Regions from separate parts of the Homo sapiens genome. Here region 2 is linked to region 1. A link means that fine-mapping ties the variant in region 1 to the expression of a gene that starts in the linked region. Tissue or cell type: whole blood. Region 1 holds a variant in brackets; the other region holds the start of a gene. All regions are shown on one strand. Distances are between the middles of the regions.

Region 1 (11,481 bases):
ACATTCCATGCTCATGGGTAGGAAGAATCAATATCGTGAAAATGGCCATACTGCCCAAGGTAATTTACAGATTCAATGCCATCCCCATCAAGCTACCAATGACTTTCTTCACAGAATTGGAAAAAACTACTTTAAAGTTCATATGGAACCAAAAAAGAGCCCGCATTGCCAAGTCAATCCTAAGCCAAAAGAACAAAGCTGGAGGCATCACACTACCTGACTTCAAACTATACACTACAAGGCTACAGTAACCAAAACAGCATGGTACTGGTACCAAAACAGAGATATAGATCAATGGAACAGAACAGAGCCCTCAGAAATAATGCCGCATACCTACAACTATCTGATCTTTGACAAACCTGAGAAAAACAAGCAATGGGGAAAGGATTCCCTATTTAACAAATGGTGCTGGGAAAACTGGCTAGCCATATGTAGAAAGCTGAAACTGGATCCCTTCCTTACACCTTATACAAAAATCAATTCAAGATGGATTAAAGATTTAAACGTTAGACCTAAAACCATAAAAACCCTAGAAGAAAACCTAGGCATTACCATTCAGGACATAGGCATGGGCAAGGACTTCATGTCCAAAACACCAAAAGCAAGGACTTCATGTCCAAAACACCAAAAGCAATGGCAACAAAAGCCAAAATTGACAAATGGGATCTAATTAAACTAAAGAGTTTCTGCACAGCAAAAGAAACTACCATCAGAGTGAACAGGCAACCTACAACATGGGAGAAAATTTTCGCAACCTACTCATCTGACAAAGGGCTAATATCCAGAATCCACAATGAACTCAAACAAATTTACAAGAAAAAAACAAACAACCCCATCAAAAAGTGGGCGAAGGACATGAACAGACACTTCTCAAAAGAAGACATTTATGCAGCCAAAAAACACATGAAAAAATGCTCATCATCACTGGCCATCAGAGAAATGCAAATCAAAACCACTATGAGATATCATCTCACACCAGTTAGAATGGCAATCATTAAAAAGTCAGGAAACAACAGGTGCTGGAGAGGATGTGGAGAAATAGGAACACTTTTACAATGTTGGTGGGACTGTAAACTAGTTCAACCATTGTGGAAGTCAGTGTGGCGATTCCTCAGGGATCTAGAACTAGAAATACCATTTGACCCAGCCATCCCATTACTGGGTATATACCCAAATGACTATAAATCATGCTGCTATAAAGACACATGCACACGTATGTTTATTGCAGCATTATTCACAGTAGCAAAGACTTGGAACCAACCCAAATGTCCAACAATGATAGACTGGATTAAGAAAATGTGGCACATATACACCATGGAATACTATGCAGCCATAAAAAATGATGAGTTCATATCCTTTGTAGGGACATGGATGAAATTGGAAATCATCATTCTCAGTAAACTATCGCAAGAACAAAAAACCAAACACCGTATATTCTCACTCATAGGTGGGAATTGAACAATGAGATCACATGGACACATGAAGGGGAATACCACACTCTGGGGACTGTGGTGGGGTCGGGGGAGGGGGGAGGGATAGCATTGGGAGATATACCTAAGGCTAGATGACGAGTTAGTGGGTGCAGCGCACCAGCATGGCACATGTATACATATGTAACTAACCTGCACAATGTGCACATGTACCCTAAAACTTAAAGTATAATAAAAAAAAAACCTTCCAAGTAAAAGAAATCTATGATAGTATTTATGGCATACTTTATTTTTAACTATGAAATGCTAGAAATACCCCTTTAAAAGCAGATGTCAATCAAGGAAAGTAATTCAGCATTGTATCAGACATCGTAGCAAGTGTAGTAAGGTACAAAAAAAGTAAAAAGTGTAAGGATTGGAAAGGAAGATATATAAAGCAGACAATATTCAGAGGTGACAAATTATTTGAATTAATAAAGCTTAGTGAGATTCAGATTCATTATATTCAAAGGTCAGTTGCATTTTCAAACATGAGCAACAGTATCAATAGCATGCTCTTTTCTTTTAGTTTTGGTTTTTCTTTTTTGAGGCAGAGTCTCCCTCTGTCACCTAGGCTGGAGTGTAGTGAAGTGATCACAGCTCACTGCAGCCTGGACCTCCCTGGGTCAGGTAATCTTCCCACCTCAGCCTCTTGAGTAGCTGGCACTACAGGTGCACACCACCATGGCTGACTGATTTTATTTATTTATTTATTTTTGTATTTTTTGTAGAGAAATGGTTTTGCCATGTTGCCCAGGCTAGTCTTGAAATCCTGGGCTCAGGCAATCCACCCACCTTGTCCTCCCAAAGTGCTGAGATTACAGGCATGAGCCACCATGCCTGGCTAGTATGCTCTTTTCAAAAGAAGAAAATGGTGACATGTCACCTAGTAACAAATCCTACAAAAGATGAGTAATAATTTTACGGTGAATTTGTTTTTAAACTTCATAAGCATCATTAAAGAAAACCTACTTAGGCCAGGTGCAGTGGCTCACGCCTGTAATGCCAGCACTTTGGGAGGCTGAGGCAGGCGGATCACAAGGTCAGGAGATCTAGACCATCTTGGCTAACACGGTGAAACCCCGTCTCTACTAAAAAAATACAAAAAAAAAATTAGCTGGGCATGGTGGCAGGGACCTGTAGTCCCAGCTACTTGGGAGGCTGAGGCAGGAGAATGGTGGGAACCCAGGAGGCGGAGCTTGCAGTGAGCCGAGATTGCGCCATTGCACTCCAGCCTGGGCAACAGAGCAAGACTCCATCTCAAGAAAAAAAAAAAAAAAGAAAACCTACTTAAATGGAGAATACACAGTGATCATATTTATGAATCATAGCCTTAGAATATAAAATCTCTCAGTCTCCAAATTTCACACCATTCCAATCAAAATCCCAACGTTTTAAATAAGTTTTATGAACTTATTCTAAAATGTATGGGTGACCAGAGGGTGAAAAATAGCCAAAATTCTTCTGAAGAGAATGAATAAAGTAGAAGGACTTTCTCCACTAATTATCAAGGCTTGATATTTCAGTCTTCAAGACCTTAGGAAGGGAAGGATTTTTAAACAAGGCACACCAAGCATTAAATATATTGAAATTTTATATATTTGATATCAAACACATCATTAAAAAGGTGAAAAAATAAGTGACAACTGGAAAAATATATTTGCCACTTATGTGCTGTCAAGTATCAAATATTCATAAGTACATATAATGTATAAAGTGTATATACACGCCCACACATTGTGTAGGTGTGCATATATTTATATACATGTTGAATATCCCTAATCCAAAAATCAGAAAATCTGAAATCTGAAACACTCCAAAATCCAAAACTTTGAGCACCAACATGACACCACAAGTGCACTCTTTCACACCTGGTCTCATGGACAGGTCACAGTCAGAATCCAGGCACACAATGCAGTTTATTCAGCATCTGCAAGGGGAAAAAGACCTTCCCAGCCTTTTTCAGCTACGACGTTATCTTTTCCGTGCATCCTGAGTCCCCACTCAAACATACCCCCACAAAGGGTGATAAAAATAGCACATGTGCAGGCCAGACACACTGAAGGCAGGCTCTCTATCATGCCCCACATGAAGCCAAGTCCTGTGGACATGACTCACTTATTCTCTGCTCTGTGGTGTAAAGATACCATGAAAATGTCAAAAAGACCTGTAGACACCCTTATAAGTAATAAGAAAATAAGGAAGCACTTATGTTTATCTATAGTTTGATAGAAAACCAAGCTGTTGGAGGAACTGGACAGTGGCATAAGTGTGGTATATCTTTCAGAAGAGTATGTCATTGGAATGACCACCATATATGGCCTGCAGAAACAGAAGGATAAACTGTTGAAGTTCTATGCTAAAAGTGATGAACAGAAGTGAATCAAAAATAGAAAAACACTACATACAGCTAAAAATGAAGATCTCAATTGTGTATTGGAAGAGTTGATTCATCAGTGTTACAGTAAACATATGTTGCTTAATGGTATGCTGATCATGAAACAAGCAAAGATTGATCATGATAAACTGAAAATTAACGGGAACCATGAATACGCGACAGGCTGGTTGCAGAAATTTAACACAAGACATGGCATTGCATTTTTAAACCTTTGTGGTGATAAGGCATCTACTGGTCACAGGTCAGTGAAGAAATTCATTAATGAATTTGTCAGGGTCATCACCGATCAAAATCTGATGCCAAAACAAGTCTATGCTGCTGATGAACATCACTGTTTTGTCCTTACTGCCCTGGAAAGACACTGACTACAGCTGATGAGGCAGCCCCTACAGGCATTAAGGATGCCAAGGACAGAATATCTGTGCTGAGATGTGCTAATGCAGCAGACACACATAAGGGTACACTTGCTGTGATAGGCAAAAGCCTGCATCCCTGGCTGTTTCCAAGAAATTAATTTCTTACCTGTCCATTATTCTGACAAAAAAAAAAAAGTCATGGACAATCAGGGACTGCTTTTCTGACTGGCTTCACAGACATTTTATATCAGCAGCTCTTGCTCACTGCAAGGAAGCTAGGCTGGATGATGACCACAAGAATTTTTTATTCCTTGATAGCTATTCTGCTCATTCTCCAAATGAAATTCTCATCAAAAATGTTTATGTCATGTACTTTCCCCAAAATGTGACTTCATTAACTCATTAGCTATGTGACCAGAGCATTCTTAGATAAACGAAGAGTGAAAGTGAGAACACTTTCTTGACCAGTATGCTAGCAGCAGTGAATGGAGGCTATGCGTGTGGAAGGTTTTCAACGTGGTTTTGTCATGACAGGTACCATATATGCTGTTGTGTTCTCTTGAAACACAGAACTAAGGCCACAGTGGTACACGCCTGGCACAGCCTCTGGCCTGTGACTACATTCAATGAAGGTGACGAACAAGATGGAGACTTCGAAGGATTCCACATGTCAAATGAGAAAAAAAAAAGTCTGACCTCCTTATATATGCAAAAAAAATTATTTCAGAGTCTATCAATAAACGGGAAGAAATTGATATTAAAGAAGTTTGTACCTTCAATAATGAGGCTCCAGTTGTTTATTCATTGGTGGATTGTGAAATAGCCAAAATGATTTTGAATCAAGGTGATCGTGATATTAGTGATGATGAAGATGATGTTAATACTGCAAAAAAGTGCCTCTAGACAACATGATGAAAATGTGTGATGGGCTTAGTGAAGGAGTAGAGCAGCATGCATTTATAACAGAACAGGAAATAATGTAAGTTTATAAAATCCAAGAGAGACATCTAAGACAAAAACTGTTGTTAATGAGGCAGATGACTCTGGAGGAAATCGTTTAAAAGGCCTTCCAGCAG[T/G]ATGTCTCCTCATCCCTAGAGGGCCCATGCTTCTGATGTTTCTTCCCACCTAAAAAAAATAAAATACAGTCTATTGTAGCCTTTTAATCGAAACACAAACACAGCATCATAGCTAGAGGCTGAAAGCCTGCCGTTGTTTGCTTGTTGTTGCTGCTGTTTAACAGCTGAGCCAGGTATTCTGGTGATGCTGCTGTGCTGCTACACACATTATTTTTTCACTGTGTTAACGGGGTGTCATAGCTTTTATTGTTAAGTACTTATGTGTGAATAAGCATAAGAAAATGATTGCTTATTGGTAGCGTAGAAATTCAGTCAAGAATGATGATCATGCCAAAAAACCACAGACTGTCCACATGAGTTCAATGTACACAAACTTTGTTCCATATAAAATTATTAAGTCTTGTACAAAGTTGCCTTCGGGCTACGTGTATAAGGCGTATATGAAACATAAATGAATTGAATGCTTAGATTTGGGTGCCAACCCCCAAGATATCTCATGTATACGCAAATATTCTAAAATCCAAAATCTGAAACACTTCTAAGTCCTATGCATTTTGGATAAGAAGTACTCGACATGTATATAGCAAGTATATATAAAGACTACTTATTAAATTTGCAAGAAGAAGCCCAAAATAGGAGCAAAGGGCATGTATGTGCAACTCACAAAGGAGAAAACACAAATTGTAAATAACCATGTGTAACTTGTTCTGCCTTATTAAAACTCCGAGAAATCTAAAGTCAGATTATAATGAAATGCTATTTTACACTGACCAGATAGTCAAGTATGAACAAGTGCCATCAATGATTTGGAACAAAAGGAATACTTGTACACGACTAGTAAGATTAAATTGACATAAACTACTTTGGAAAATATTTTTACAAAGTTGTTTACAATAATCTTGTAAAGTTGAACATAAAATATAACAGTTTCATCTCAAGATGTATATATCTGGATTTTAGGGCCTTAGAGAAACTCTTGCATGTATACACAACCAGAAGATATGTACAAAACATTCATGATAGTATCATTTGTAATAATGAAAACCTAAAAGTATCCAAATAAATAAGTGAACTGTGGCCCGTTTACACTTCTATGTCTTAAATAGCACTAAAAATTAAAGAGCAATAGCTTCCTGCAACATAATATGGAATGTCAAAGGAAATTGCAGAGCACTCATGAGTTTTTTTTTTTTTTTTTTTTTTGAGATGGAGTCTCACTCTGTTGCCAGGCTGGAGTGCAGTGGCAAAATCTTGGCTCACTGCAACCTCTGACTCCCCGGTTCAAGTGATTCTCCTGCCTCAGCCTCCTGAGTAGCTGGGATTACAGGCACACGCCACCATGCCCAGCTAATTCCTGTATTTTTAGTAGAGACGAGGTTTCACCATGTTGGCCAGGATGGTCTCGATCTCCTGACCTCGTGATCCACCCGCCTCGGCCTCCCAAAGTGGTGGGATTACAGGCATGAGCCACCGCCCCCAGCCTACATGGGTATTTTTTAAAAAGGCAAAAGCAAAACTAAATCATAAGTGTTTTAGAAATGTAAATATATAATTTAAAAGGTTCTATTTTAAAAGCAAGAGAATAATCAACAAAATTATAAATTACGGTTTTAGAGAGGTGAGGATGAGACCCAGGAGGAATATGCAAGTAGTTTCAATGGTATTGGTAATATTCTAGTGGTGCTGTTGTGTGGTATATTGATGGTTGTTTACTTTATTCAATAAATACATACATGTTAAATATATCAACAGTATTCCATAATACAAACGCCTTAATTCAATAGATTTCGTTCTAACGTATAGAATATTTAATTGGGGGACGTCCAGGTAGAGATGTTTCGTCAGCCGATAGTTAAAAATATTTATTATTCTGAAGAGAGGTATAAGCCAGATTTGCAGCTTGGGGAGTTATCACTATAAATATCTTTACAGATTTGGAGACCGAATTTCTCATTTTAAAATGTGAGAATTCGGCAGGGCGCGGCTCACGCCTGTAATCCCAGCACTTTGGGAGGCCGAGGTGGGTGGATTGCCTGAGGTCAGGAGTTCGAGACCAGTCTGGCCAACATGGTGAAACCCCGTGTCTACTAAAAATACATAAAAATTAGCCGGGCGTGGCGGCGTGCATCTGTAATCCCAGCTACTTGGGAGGCTGAGGCAGGGGAATTGCTTGAACCAGGAAGGCAGAGGTTGCAGTGAGCCGAGTTTGGGCCACTGCACTCCAGCCTAGGTGACAGAGCGTGAGACTCCATCTCAAAAAAAAAAAAGAAAAAAAAAAGTGGGAATTCAAGAATGGAATAAATGAGAATGGATAAGTTAGAATGTATGATGTATATTCGTAAAAAAGTTAAAGAGATCAGAGAATTTCAATTTAAAGAAAAGGGCATGTTTTCTTAAGAGAGCAGCCACTGTCCTGGAACACCTGGATACATCTTAGCAAGAAAGGATGGTGGGTGATGTCTGAAACCAGAAGCTTAGGAAAGGAAATAGGTGGAAGTTTAGAAAGGATTGTCTCAAGAGAGGGTTTGTGCTATAAGGTGAACATTCAGGGAAAAAAATATATACATACTTAAGGACACATGTCCTGTATGTCAAGAGTGGGAATAGAATTAGGCCTTTTAAAAACATAGCTGTCTTCAGCCAGGGTCATTGGCTCATGCCTGTAATCCCAGCACTTTGGAAGGCTGAGTTGGGTGGATCGCTTGAGGCCTGGAGTTCAAGATGAGCCTGGGCAACATGGCAAAACCCCATCTCTACTAAAAACACAAAACTTAGCTGGGCGTGGTGGCACATGACTGTAATCCCAGCTACTTGGGAGGCTGAGGCATCAGAGAATCGCTTGACCCCTGGCACAGGGGGAGCGGAGGTTGCAGTGAGCCGAGATTGCACCACTGCACTCCAGGCTGCGTGACAGAGAGACTCCATCTCAAAAAAAATAAATAAATAAATAAAATAAAAAGCTGTCCTCATCTCAGTACTTTCACTAGTGCAGAAATTGATAAAATGAAAATGCAGAAACACTGAAAAGTCTTCATCCGAAGCATCTTCCAGAAATTCCCGTATCCTCCTTTCCCAGGATAAGTGAAAGAACATCCACAGATGATAATAATTCATCCACTGGGCTAATTTATATTTTACAGAAAAAGAAGTAGGAAACTTGAAAATGAGCTCATGTTTCATTTCCTGAGGCCCTGCTATGAGGATTCAGTTTGTCATAGGTGTTCATTGCTTGCTGAAACCCTTCTTGCTTTCTAGGCTGAGACATTTGAAACTTTCTTTAGGAAAAAGAAAAACAGTTGCTTAGTCATCTTCCAAAGGGATGGACCATAGCAAGCACTCTTGAGGCTCTTTGTAGTGGCTCCCAGGGAATAATTATTGTTTCTGTTGCTTTGAACCTTCCACCTCAGTGACTGGCAGTGCTAGCATAAATGGTATTTGGCTAATATTAAGAGAAAATGTATTTAGAAATAAGCTAAACTAGCACCTCCAGAACACTTTGCTGTATGACTATGGAGAAGCATCTGACTCAAAGGGAAAGGGGCTTTCAGTTCCAGGCAAAGATTGTCTTTGGCTTAAGTCGGGAGAAATGATGGAAACAGGAAGTTTTTCTGTTGCTCTTTCCATGAGAGGTTAGTTACAAAGTGATGATGACATGGTGATAAAGTAGAGGCCGGAAGAAACGGGATGGCAATTATATGACAATACAGACCAGGAATGGGCCTCGAGTTTTTAAGGTAGCATTAGATCAGAGAGAGAAGAGAGTTGATAAATGTATGGACATACCAAATCAATCTCTATCAGTCTTCCTTTCACTTGAAATTAGGGGACAAGGGAGACATTGTGAAAATTAGCCCAATCTTGCCATTGTAGAGAGAAGTTAACTCAGTCCTTAGAAATACAGCCCAGCTTCCATTCATGGTAATAATAGTTACCATTTATTAATGTTAGTCATTATTCTGAATATTTTACATGTAATTTTCATAAGATTCTCATACAGGCAACTCTCTTTGGTAAATATTATATTACCATCCCCATTTTACAGATGAGAAAAATAAAACACAGAGGTTAAATAGCTTACCCAATGTCACACACTAGTTCATGACAGAGCAAAGTTTTCTTTGTATCTGGGCAGTATGAGCCCAGAGCCTTCTCTCCTGCCCACTGTGCCTCCAGCAACATTTCTACTTGGAGCTGTAAGCGAGGATGTTTAAGGGAGGTGCAGAGAAAACTATCCTAGAGCAGACAGTTGCTGACTCTGCACACATTATGCATGTCTGTTTTAATCTGTGTTCTTGTCTCCTTTCCTAAATTTCTAAAACTCTGTATTAATTATTGTAATTACAAACTGTGGATGACAGCCATAGTAGTTATTTCCACAATTTGAGTTTGTGGAAAAGGCAATCAAGATTATCAAGTAGTTGGTATAAATAACCCATAACCTGGAAAATTTTTTACTTTTGTTTTTTTCTTTTTTGAGTTGGGGTCTCGCTGTGTCACCCAGGCTGGAGTGCAGTGGAGCCATCTTGACTCACTGTAACCTCTGCTTCCCAAGCTCAATCAATCTTCCCACTTCAACCTCCAGTGTAGCTAGGACTATAGGTGCATGCCACCATGCCTGGTTAATTTTTGTATTTTTAGTAGAGATGGGGTTTTACCATGTTGCCCAGGCTGGAATCTGAGAAAAGTTTTAAGATGAAGTTGCAAAGAAGGAAATAACTAGGTGGTTGGCAGAAGAAAAACCAGAAAAGACAAGAAGGCCAGGGAGAGATTAGAGATTTTTTCTACTGTTTTCACAAAATAATACAATATAATATAATAAATGCCATACAATAAATATAATGGTATACAAAAGAAAAACAAGATATATTTGGGATATTGATATGAGAGAAATGAACATCAGAAAATTAGAAAATTGGTGTTCTTAGTATTGGAATAACCACAAAATTGTCTGTGGTTCTATGTGGTCTGATGAAAGAAGGAATCCTAGTACAGGATCCTAAGGATCTGGATTTGAGAAAGAGCTTTGCCATTTGAGAGCTGTTTTCATTTGTGATTTATATATTCATTCATTCAGCAAGTATTGTTGAACATCAATCATGTGCCCACGTTGTTCTAATTGTTGCAGATGCAATGGAAATGTTAGACCAAGTCACTCTCCTCATGGAAATGTATAGTGCAAGGCAGGGGTCAGCAAACTTTTTTTGTGAAGGGACAAACAGTAAATATTTTAGGCCTTACAGCTTGTATGGTCTGTGTCACAACTACTCAAATCCACGGGTGCAGTGCAAAAGTGAGCACAGACAATACAAAAATGAAAGAGCTGGGCATGGTGGCTCATATCTACAATCCCAGCAGTTTGGGAGACCAAGGCTGAAGGATCATTTGAGCCCAGAGTTTGAGACCAGCCTGGGCAATATAGTGAGGCCCCATCTCTAAAAAAAAAAAAAATTAAAAATTAGCCAGGTATGGTGGTGTGCACCTGGAGTCCCAGCTGTTGAAGAGGCTGAGGTAGGAAGATTGCTTGAGCCTGGCAGGTCGAGATTGCAGTGAGCTGTGATTGTGCCACTGCACTCCAGCCTGGGCAACAGAGTGAAATCCTATCTCAAAAAAAAAAAAAAAAAAAAGAAAGCAACAAAAGGACATACTGTGTTCCAATAACACTTTATGTTTTAAAAACAAGTGGTAAATTAAATTTAGCTGGCAAGCTAAAGTTTGTCAATTCTTGGTCTAGAAGAAGAAACAGACACAAGCCAAAAAATTATGCATATGATAACACGTGCAAAGATCCGGTGGCGAGAAGACATATCAAGCTTTGGAGGCACTGATAGGAGACCAATGGAGCTGCTTCACGGAGAGACACATGAGTGAGGCTGGAAAGGGAGGAAGGGGCAGGCCAGCAGGGTCTTGTAGGACACTTAGGAGTTTGGTCTTTACAATATTGACAGTTGGCAATTTTTTGATTATTTTAAGCAGGATGAAGACATGATCAGATTTGAGTTTCAAAAGCTCACTCACTGCAGTGTTAGAATGAGTTGGGTTAAATTTTCTCATCTGAAACATAAGGATGGATACACTTGCCCTGTGTATTGAACAGGTCATTGTGTAATCAGTGATCACACAAGATTTATACAAGGTGCATAGAAGTGTTTTATGAAATATAAATGCTATAGAAAATTACACAG
Region 2 (11,481 bases), 41 kb before region 1:
GTTGTTTCTTTCATTCAATTTTTTGGATTCTTGCTTTATCCTTATTCTACATTTCCCTTTCAACTGTTATCAACCAAATTCAGTTACTAATTGATAAATTGACTACACAGCCTCCAAATGACAGAGCTCACTTGAAGTAGATCCTAAAAGAATGTCTTATAAAACCTGCTGTTGTAACATCACTTTTCTACTAGGAAAACCTCAAAAATGTTATAGGCAAAAACATGGCTTTAATAATCCTCAAATAAGACTTCAGAAACATCCCAAATTGTATTTTCTGCTGCTGAAAAAGTGCATCTTCACCTTCTTTCCTGCTAATAAATGCCTGTAGACCATGCATGATAAACCCTCCATGAATGTTCCATCCATCCTCCCCTCTCCTCCCACCAAAACTAGTTTAGTTCAATAACTACTTCCTTCATGATATCTTGTTCTATTTCTCCAGGCAATTTAGTTTCTCCTCCTAAGTCCATTTTGCTTTAAGAATCAATAGCATAGACTACATTTCATTGTTTCAATACATAATAGATCTGCACCTCCTGATACTAGAGAGGACACAGAAAGGGCACTCAATAAAATGCTTGCTGATTAATCAGCCTGTAGGATACTTGAGTCTGGGATTCTAGGTTTCTAATTTCTACATGCTTAATTAAATAGGATACACACTTATCTCCTGAGCCCACTAGAAATTCTCATACTGTTGCCAGTTACTTTTGGAGGAATCTCCTGGCCTTTGGTGAAGAATAAGTGGGCCTGTTATCAGGATCATTTATTGTGGGCAATCATACCCATCTGTTTTTCAGTTTTCTCGTAGTAATACACTTAGCTCTTTACACACCGCTTCATACACAACACTTAAAACATTATACCAAATATCGAACAAATTAAAATCAATTTATAATATTTTTATAATACCATAAACAAGTAATGTACCTTGGGACAGTTTGATCAATCTGTTATTCAATCCTCCATCTCCATCCACAATGTAAATATCTCCTGTGTCCTCTACATATAATTCTGCTGGGTTATCAAACTGCAAAGGATTCAAACTAGTGCCTTTTTTGCCTGGAGTACCCAAGACTTGAACAAGATCACCAAAAGAACTGTATTTTTTAACAGTATGACCAAAGAATCCTATAAAGATAGATATGTACATCTCACAAATAAAACCACTATACAAACATTCAGATTTTTCAAGTAAGCTAAGAGCAAAAATTTGATAGAAGTAAATAATAACAAATAGGTGATAGGCTTAGGAAATTACATATAATTGACAAGCACTATAGCTTCTTCGTAAATTACAGCCAAATTTGATCACGAATTAAAATCTCCATTAGTCCAAAATAAGCGGATTCTAAATTCAAATAAATAACATCCCCATAATTGACTCATTATACAGGAAACTCAGAATGCTAACAAAGTATTGGTGCACCATTTTCTTTTTTAATCTTATGACCTTGAATAAGCATTGCTTATGAAAGGAAATCAAGAAGAAAATGTAAAGGGAACAACTTATATTTGAAACTGTTATTTCAATCACTCACATACAGACCTTAAATTTCAGTAAGTCAACAAAAACGTTCTCTATGGTACAGATTTTTTTTTTAACTGCATTTTCACCTTGTGGAGACATTCAAAATTCAACCCAACTTTTCTTTGCTAAGAAGAAAATAATCTTTGTAAATCATGAGTATCTTATTTTCTCACGTTAAAATTTCTTTAAGTTAAAATTATCTTACAAGCAAGAGCATAAAGCAGACTACTAATAAGGGAATATCATAAAGCAGTGAACAGAAATCAATTTGAAGGTACATATGCCAAATTAATTGATAGGTATTCAAAAGACAAACTGGATACATTGAGCTTACCAGAAAGAAAGTGAATCAGCTTGCATTACAATTCTATGTTAAATAATTTATTTACTATTACACTTTTAGACAGTTGAGCTAAAGTTCATAGCAATAAAAAACACATAAGCCTCCAAGTTTCTAAAAACTAGCAAAAAAGACTACCAATAAAAAATTTTCTCAAAAAAAAAAGGCTAATTTGTAGCCATATTTTTCATTAGAGGAAATTTATTCCTTTGGGAAATGGGAATATAAAACTGTCTTCAGATCTCTGGGTAGAAAATTAGCTGTAATGGAAAAAATGAAGAGATCGTCTGTGCTCTTTTTATTTCTGGGAATCAAGGAAGTCTTATTTTTAAAAATCACATGAATAAAATGAACTCAAAGAAATGGTCTTTAACAGTGGATCTTCAGGAAAAAAGTGAAAATAGACTCTCATTATAGTATTAACAATTCACTCAGTGATAATCTATAGACTTTTTTTGGTTGAACCAGATTCATACTATGTAAAACACAGCATGAAATAAATGGGCCATCAGCTGAGGCCCAGAAATCTTATGGGTTCTGAGAACAGCTGTGATAATGGCACTACTTACAGAAACTGAGAACTCATTATCTCTAAAAAATGGTATCTGAATCAGCCAGGACTGTAGAACCAGGATGTCTCTCAATTCAAGAACATAACTGGGCCAAGGAATACTAGAAATAATGTCTTTATAATCCCATTTCTTCCTGAATTCCTAGGGTAATGCCAGGATATCTCAGGTATTGCCTTGTCTTAAGCTACAGCCACAGGTGAATTGTTTCTCTGAAAACTTTCTCCATAGCTGCACATTCAGTTGTGCTCACTTCATTTTTCAGCTTTTTCTACTAAAAATATTTGATGGCAGGAAGATTTCAGACATGCTTCAGTCAGTAGAATTTCAAAAACATTAACAACAGTTTCTGCAATCTTTGCACTTTGAGCAACAAAGCAGTTACGATTTCACAATCTTTTATGAAAGAAAACTGGAAAAGGAAAATAAGAGTCAAGGATTCCAGTCATTGCTTTCAGAGACTGCCACTTTATTTGGCTTCAGTTTAGAGTTATTTAATCTGAGAAGAGCAACTGATGCTTTAAAGAGGAAAAGACCCTAGACAAGTTCAAGGAAAGATCATATTAACAGGCTCCTTGTCAAATTTCTTTCTTTTTTTTTTTTTTTTTGAGACAGAGTGTCGCTGTGTCACCCAGGCTGGAGTGCAGTGGCGCGATCTCGGCTCACTGCAAGCTCCGCCTCCCGGGTTCACGCCATTCTCCTGCCTCAGCCTCCCCAGTAGCTGCGACTAAAGGCGCCCGCCACCACGCCTGGCTGATTTTTTTTTTTTTTTTTTGTATTTTTAGTGGAGACGGGGGTTTCACCGTGTTGGCCAGGATCGTCTCGATCTCCTGACCTCGTGATCCGCCCGCCTCGGCCTCCCAAAGTGCTGGGATTACAGGCGTGAGCCACGGCGTCCAGCCCTTGTTAAATTTCTTAATTCCACAGAAGTACAAAATAAAGTTTGTTAAAAACATGTGATTTCATGAATCGTTAAAGAAATTACAATTAGATTCAGCAACTCTGATTTTAAACAATACAAACAAGGACATGTGCAAAGATGTGATTTCCAGTAAGATAATTTAATAGATATTACTATACATACCACTTCCTACATCCGTGATCCAGACGGATTGTTCATATAGAGTACTGGCTGCAAATATACCATGAGGTGTGTCAACTGTATAATTCCAGGCTCGTAGGAAATATCCATCCTCTGTGAACACTAATATCTTTGGGATGTTATCCCCTCTCTGAAGGTATACAAAAAATAACTTCTTAGGATCAGCTTAAAGGAAAGGTAATCTGTATCTTGGCGAAGAAAAAAAATAACTGAGAATTTTACTACAAAAACCACTTTCAAAATCTAACATATCTTTCACATTCGAAACCAAAATACTTGAGACCAACTCAAAAATAAATTGCACAATTAGCATGATATAAACGCATATGGTCAGTTACTACAGCAAGACAGGAAGGCTGTTACTTCCTTTGTGTTCATAATTTTTTTAAATCTCTATTTACTTACTTGACCTATGTAAACCAATCCATTGAGGGAGTCAACTGCAACACAAAATGTTGTTCCGGTAAAATATTCTGGGTGCTTAGGCCAACCCACATCCAGCCGGTAAAGAATTTTCTCAGTTCTCCAGGAAACTGCAAAAGTAAAGTTCCTCAAAACCTTAAACAAAATCAGACAATTCAGATTTAGTTTACCGTCTAGGTAAGAACAAAAAAAGGGCGGGGGGGCCGGGTAACAGGGCTTATTTTTAAGCATGCCTTGACAACTAGAAGTTTGCTGGACTGAAATAATTCCAAAGAAATGAGCTTAGATGCCTAAAGACCAACACGACCACAATACAAGTCTGCAAATTATTTGAGGATGTAGTAAGAGTTGGGAAAGAGGAAAATGGCGATGTAACATACACAAATTTTTAAACTCAAAGGGTCAAGGCAGTTTGGACCCAGGTGCAGGCTTTGAGACAAGCTACTGAGGGAACCAGGGCCTGCCACCTCCATGCCACGACCGTGGCGACGCCTCCCAACAGGGCTACCCGCACACCCGACAGTCATTTCCTCACTACCCAACTCACTGGAGAGCCACAAAAACGCGAATGCAAAACCAAAAATGCAAGAAAGAAGCCAGCACCGGCTACGCAGACCCAGAATCTCGCCATGACCAGACGGGAAGCCAGGAGAGGGAGGGTCCGCAGGTGTCTGGGGGAGGACCTGACAGCCTCAGGCTGCAACGGTTTGCAGCGGCACAGAGGGTCTGCCCGGGGCCCGAAGACCCTATCTCCGGTTTCCCCTCCCTGGATGCACGAGCTTTGAGTACGAAAGGGAACAGAGACCAGGGCGAATGAAAATCACAGAAGACCAGTTCCGGACTTCGTGTGCATTTCGGGGTCCCCGCCCTCATGTCAGGTGCTTCGGGCTGACCCAGTGACCACCCTTTCCCGCCCTCAGGGCAGTCCGCGCCGCTGACTTTCAGTGGCCACCAAAGTATGGGCGCCCGTAGATATGCCTTAATCGCTCGCCATTTATTCTTTTTAATCCAGAGGGCAAAATCAAAACATCGCACACTCAGACACGAGGTATGGTGGGGATGACATTCAAAATAATGACCGCTAGGCTTCGGGAAGGATTTTTGCCACATCCTATTCCTACCATCCAGGCATCCGCTATGGATGCCTATATTCCCACACCAGGACCCCACCTCTGGCTTTCAGGAAAGAGGGGCCCAAGCTGGCGGCGCAGTGTTGAGTTTACTTGGGCGCGACTGGCTTTATTGTAGGTCCCCATGAGCTGGTGGGGGCTGTAGGGGTAACCAGGCAGGGCGTCTGGCGCTGTTGGGGCTGCGTTTTTCCGGAGTCCCCCTATGCGAGGCCGTGCCCCTCTTCGCCCGGCTCCTGGTGCTCCCCAGCCGCCGGCCCGCTCCCGGAAGCTGCAGCAGCTGGTAACAAAGAGCCTGCCGGGCCGCCTGCTGCCGGGGCCGAGGTATCCAGGAGTCGGGCGGAGCGGCTGGGGATGAGCGCGAGCCGGACCATGCGTCCGGGTTCGCGGCGGTGAGGGTCGCGGCCGGCGGCCGAGGCGCAGGTGCGGGTCGAGAGACCGGCGCCTCCCTCCCCGCCGCCCGTGGACTCTGAGCGCAGGTGTTTCTACTCTGCCGGCCGCTCCACCTGGGAAAGCGCCTTCAAGAGCTACCTCTGGCGGCACCTGGCCCTCAGCTGCAGGGAAACCGCACTCAAACCTGCCGCCGAGCCCGGGTTTTTCTGCAAAACTCAGAGGACCTGGCTCTTGCCCGAGGTGCCCTGAACCATTGTGTGAATAAGCTGGGGAAGCCTGACTGGAGTGTTTTTTCTTTTTAATAAAAAGAGTTTTTCTGAATCTCAATTTTTAGAAATTTTTTTTGCGAAGTTTGCAATACTCTCTACCTCTTCGCATCCTCTCTTGCTCGTGGAGTCTTTTTCCTCCTCAGCTATAAATATTTTTTACTATCGGCGGAGCAGACCAGGGATGAACGTCTTTTAATTGCAAGTATAACTGTTAAAACCACGTCGGGATAGTAGTCAAGATGGATAAAAAGTCCTTTGAAATGGTGCTGGATGAAATTAGAAAGGTAATTAGACCGATTCCATGAATTATTTTATGAGATGAATTCTCGTGTTTTAGACTCTCTTTGAGGTACTGTATGGAGATTGTGCAGAATAAGGGTCCTAGGATTGCCAAATTGGTTTGAATTTTCACGTGTAATGGAGGAGTTTATATCTTGATACGTTTCCAGTACAAATAGAAATTAAGTTACGTTAACGCCAAATTTGAGACTCAGCACGGTGTCGTGGGAATTACATTTGTAAAGCCCTCGGTTCCAAAGCCGGCTTTACAAATCCGTAATAGCTCTGTACTTTTTGGGTAAGGGGTTTAATATTTTTGAGTTTATTGCCTCATCTTTCAGTAACACAAGAGTGACTGAAAACGAGAGGTAATACGCAGAAAGTTTCTTTTATGGTAGTTATTATGATGGGGTTTTCAAATCTAAGCATAAGGTAGAGTATATTTGTTGCGTTGGCCATGCAAAATTCGTGTCCTGATGGTAAGTGTGGCATTAAGTTTAAAGTCACGTTCTTAGGAATTGGCCGTCAATAACTTGAGCTTCAAAACTTTTTTCTCCTGCTTTCCAAGTTTTTGCTGCTTTTTGAGGCTGTTGTGTGGATCGCATTTCCCAGAGTGAACCAGACAGCAACAATTCTGGAAGGTAGTCTTGAGCCTAACAATATCTCAAGCACAAAAATACCGAGAAGTTACTTATTTTAAAATGTAAGGACTTGATGTACCATTGTTACATCAACACACGGTGCTTTCCTTCGGCCTTCCGGGCAATTATTCTTTCGTCAGCTGCATACCTTTACGACCCTTGACTGAAACGGAAGAAATTGTTGCCATGTGCTCTGGTGCTTATTTCAGTTTACAAAGCTATTATTAAAATTGTCTCTGGTCTTGCTGTTTTGCTTTGTTTTTATACAGCTTTTTTCTTTTTTCAAATTGACGTGTTTAAGTTTTCATATTTGATAATACTGAACATTCTTTTTTGAACAAGTTCTGCTTTTGCAAACCTAAGTGTCCAATTAATTTTTGAAATAAAATATTGGTTTGCTAATTATATGCCTAGAAATTTGTCACAATTTGTTCTTGGGCTGATTTTTAATTACTTTTCATGAGAAAATAATTGGTGAGTCCAAGTAGACCAGCAGATTTTTACTTTTGGAAGATACAGGGTCTCAGTGTGCATATTCTCTTCCTGGTGTCATAAAAACGTCACAGTAAATTCTAAAGAGGGGAATAGGAAATTTTCCAGATATGAAAGTGTTGTTCACATGAGATGGCAACTTAAGTCTGTATTTCTGGTCAGCAGTTAAAATATATCTTCTGCTGGCTTTGCCGAGTGATTAGACACATCAACATTGTCATGGTCTATTAAAATGGAATAAAATATTGGCATATCTAAATATGAGCATTACTACTGATTTTCTTAAAAATCGTTCTTTGTAAATGTAAGTCAGTTTAAACCAGGTCATCTCTTGAGTATCACAGTGAGTTTATATGATAGATAATACTGATTGTCACTACTGTCATTTAAAACAGAGGCATATAAGAAGCCACTAGCAGAAGAACTGGGAAAGGGAGTAGAAAGGGGGAAAAAGCAATGGTTAACTGATTATTCAAAAAGGAGGGAATGATAGCTATTAATTAGTGAGCACTTACTTTGTGAGCCTGTTTTTAAGCACTTTCTCCAGTCATTATTTGTTTTGATTCTCCTTACAACGCATGAGGTGTAGGCACTGTACTTCTTGCTTATAGCTGGTGGCCTATTCTCTGTGAGGTTAACTATCAGCTCAAGACTCCCTAGGTGGTAAGTTGGGGGCTGGGGGCAGTATTCAAACTATGCTTGCAGAGCACCATGCTGTCCTGCCTGGGGTTACAGCTGGGCCTCTCAGGCATTGATGGAAGAATTGAGATATGACTTGGCATCAGTACAATCCAAGACTTTGTTCAGAAACTTGTATTTGACTGTGTCCGATTATTACATTGATAATAAAACTCCTAGGAATACATTATTTAGAATGCCATTTTCTCCCTTTTCAGTGAATATTGAACTACTGAGCACCCAGGATATTTCAGTTGACTGGTCATAATACTTTCTCCTAGCAGAATGATATATGTGAAAAATATGAATATTAAAATTATTTTATAGTACAAGCAAAGGGATTAGTTCATTTTTAATGATTAGTGGCTACTGACTTAAGATAGCTGTTTCCATCTCTAAGCTGAGCAAATAGCTGCAAGGGGAGCATGTGTGATTTAGTGGGCTCTAGATAGTGCTGCATCAAAGCCACCAACTTCTCTCTCACCCACTGATAGATTCCGAAAAGGAAAGGAACCATCACTTACTGAATACCTGTTATATGTCACATCTAATGTCCACTATTATAGTCTTCATAGTAATTCTTTGAGGTTGGTGAATGGTGTTCCCTCTATGAATGAGGACGCTCAAAAGGAATTAAAATGCCTCTCAAAGTCTACACTGCCAGTTAGTGGCAGGCACAGACATTGAATTCAGGACTTCTTGCATTCTTATGTCCCTATAGAAATACTGAGAGCCTCAACTAGACCTTGTCTTATTCTTGCTTCTCTGTCACTTAGCACATAGTAGATATTCAATAATTGATGAATGAGTAACATCTGATATGTTTAATCTTAAAAATGACAATTTGGATTTGGAATGTTTTGAAACTCTTTAATTACATATTTAGGAATTCTAAATGTTGTGTATACTGATGTTGAATCATATCTATTACAATTTTATTCCCTTTCTTTGTAGAAGTTGGTAGGGAAGCCCAGCAGATCTTCCTGCTTGCTCAGTGTGTCCCTCACAGTATGGAACCTGGAAAGATGGAAGGAAGGGCCTCTCACCACAGTGACCTTAGTTCCTCTGAATGACAGGGCTGAAGTAGACCTGCCACTGTTGAGTTGCTTGGGCAGTTTTGATAGATGTATATTACTGTGCTGCTTACGTATATTAATGCTGTTTTACTCTGTGTGTGTGTGTTTTTTTTTTTTAGGCTGTTTTGACAGAATACAAATTAAAAGCAATTGAATATGTGCATGGATACTTTTCTAGTGAACAGGTATTCCTCATTATTTGTTTAAACAAAGCTTTCTTTTTATACCAATGTTCTGGTTAATGTCTGTCTGCTGGCCGAATTCAGAATTGGTTTTACCTTTTTGCTGTATTTATTCAAGAACTCGAGAAGCTCTCAGTTTTGGCAGAAAACTCTACAGAATTTATAATTCAGGGACTAAGCACCTCTCCACTTTCACCCCAATTCATGTTTTAAAATGATTTTAAATATAGGGTCTTAAAGCAATTCAAAGTGTTTATGGTTCTGGGCACAATATCAAAGATTTAGAGACTCGTAATGGCAAATTTACCCAAATTTTTATAGTTACATGTAAGACAATTACAAAATTCGTCATGTAATATAAAAGAAAATGTGAACAAATAATGAAATATGTTTTTATATGAAGCCACTAAATAAAAATTTCAACAGTAAGAAAAATACACAGTGTTATTTAATAAGTAGTTTCTGTAACTGCCAGAATACTAACATTTTAAGCATGATAGTTTAGTGAAAACTTCATTCCACCTTAGGGGCAGTTTGCTAATTAAAATATATGTGTGTCACACACACAAGGGGGCATGTTTCTGAGGGATAGTTGGAAAATTCTTGATAGAGAAGTCAGGCATAAATATTAATAGAAATGTCTGGAGAACAGCTTGGGGAAAGGATGGACAATAAATGTATATATTGAGTTAGTAAATGCTCCAATTGAGTTAGTAAATGGTCCAGCTTTTCATTGGTTTCTCAAGAACTTCAAAACTTGAAACCTTAAATGACTTTTAAGCCTATAGAAGTTCTGCCCACTAAATTCTTAAAAGCTACTTTATGATTTGCATTTGTTGTCTTTATGTCAGTTTTTCAGCTTTCCCATTGCTTTACAAAGTTACTTTATGCTCTTTTAAAAATTTAAATGTTTTGGCTGGGTGCAGTGGCTCACACCTGTAGTCCCAGCACTTTGGGAGGCCAAGGCAGGCGGATCACTTGAGGTCAGGAGTTCAAGACCAGACTGGCCAACATGGCAAAACCCCATCTCTACAAAAATACAAAAATGAGCCGGGCATGATGGCGGGTGCCTGTAATCCCAGCTGTTCAGGAGGCTGAGGCTGGAGAATTGCTTGAACCCAGGAGGCAGAGCTTGCAGTGAGCCAAGATCGCGCCATTGCGCTCCAGCCTGGCTAACAGAGCAAAACTCTGTCTCAAAAAAAAAAAAAAAATTAAATGTTTTAAAAAGATATATAATTTCTTACAGCTAATAGCATTTTTTTTCTTGGGTGTATGTGATGTACCACCCTTAATGATGCTTCCACTTTGCTAAAGTCATTACAAAGTTTATTAAGCCACTTTCTAAATGAGCTTATTGTATTAAAGATTTTTCTTTGTATCTTAGATATGGTGGCTTGTAAAATTTTATGGTTGGTTAAAATATAGCATTTATTAGATATTAAGAACATTATTCCCATCAAAGTTAAGGACATAGACGTTTATCAAATTAACTGGAAAGTATACATAATACTTATTTGCTATATATATATATCTCTTTATAAGGAGTAAAAATTATTTTTACTCTCTTTACATACCACTCCAGTTTGCACCATTGACCTTGCTGTATAGAATAATTGGAACCTTAGCGTATTTTCAGGAACTGTCTTCTTGTATCACTTTTTTCCCCTTTTGGAGCATCTTTGGAGGCAGTCAAACAGGGTGGTGGTGATCATGCTGAGACTTCAGTGTCCTGATCTTTATGCCCTGTGCTCCCCTCTTACTGGCTATCTCATAATGCTTCCCTCATTTGTTTGAAGTTCTTAGGTGGTGGTGGGAGCTAATCTGAGCTGCACACTCTGAGCTCTCAAATGATGTATCATTTAGGGGCTGCTGGAGTAATTCATGTTGACTCTTAACATTTTTAAGGGACTAGATTTATGATTTGAGTTTATGCCCTCCAGATTCAAGTTAAAGGACCTACTAGGACTAAAGTTAGTGGACCTACACTAAAACATACCACTGTGCCTTTGTGAGTGCTGTTCTCCCCTCGTGTTGAAAGGTTTTCCATTCACAGTCCATCTTTATAATCCTGAGCTGACATTTGATCTCCATCTAGTACTTCTCAACCATCCTTTTCCTATTAGGATACTTTGTTTTTTTCTGTATTGTATATTTTTCTTTCTTTCTAGACCAGTGCTGTCTAGTAGAACTTTTTGTGGTGGTAGAAATGTTCTCTATCTGCAGTGTGCATTATTGTAGTTATCAGCCTCACATAGCTCTGGAGCACTTGAAATGTAGCTTGTGTCACTAAGGAACTGATTTTTACATTTTATTTGACTTTAAGTTATTTAAATGTATATAACTATATAATAGCTATTCTGTTAGCACAGTTTTTAA

What was found. PIP is the estimated chance that this variant, and not a neighbour inherited with it, causes the effect.
Region 2: it holds the start of NHLRC3, and the variant in region 1 is fine-mapped to the expression of NHLRC3 in whole blood (TOPMed, PIP above 0.99).

Annotation. Positions count from the first base shown.
Region 1 is chr13:38,991,010-39,002,490 of GRCh38, reverse strand. No RefSeq gene overlaps it. Among named protein-coding and RNA genes, the nearest start is that of STOML3, 5.9 kb to the right of the region's middle. The variant T/G (reference allele first, on the strand shown) is at 5,300.
Region 2 is chr13:39,031,758-39,043,238 of GRCh38, reverse strand. NHLRC3 (NHL repeat containing 3) reads right to left here and starts at 4,783. Exons shown (of 7, transcript NM_001012754.4): 1 at 4,516-4,783; 2 at 3,951-4,103; 3 at 3,528-3,675; 4 at 934-1,134. The coding sequence starts at 4,599. PROSER1 (proline and serine rich 1) reads left to right here and starts at 5,150. Exons shown (of 13, transcript NM_025138.5): 1 at 5,150-6,041; 2 at 9,043-9,108. The coding sequence starts at 5,997. RefSeq lists a silencer at 5,440-5,669 and an enhancer at 6,812-6,921.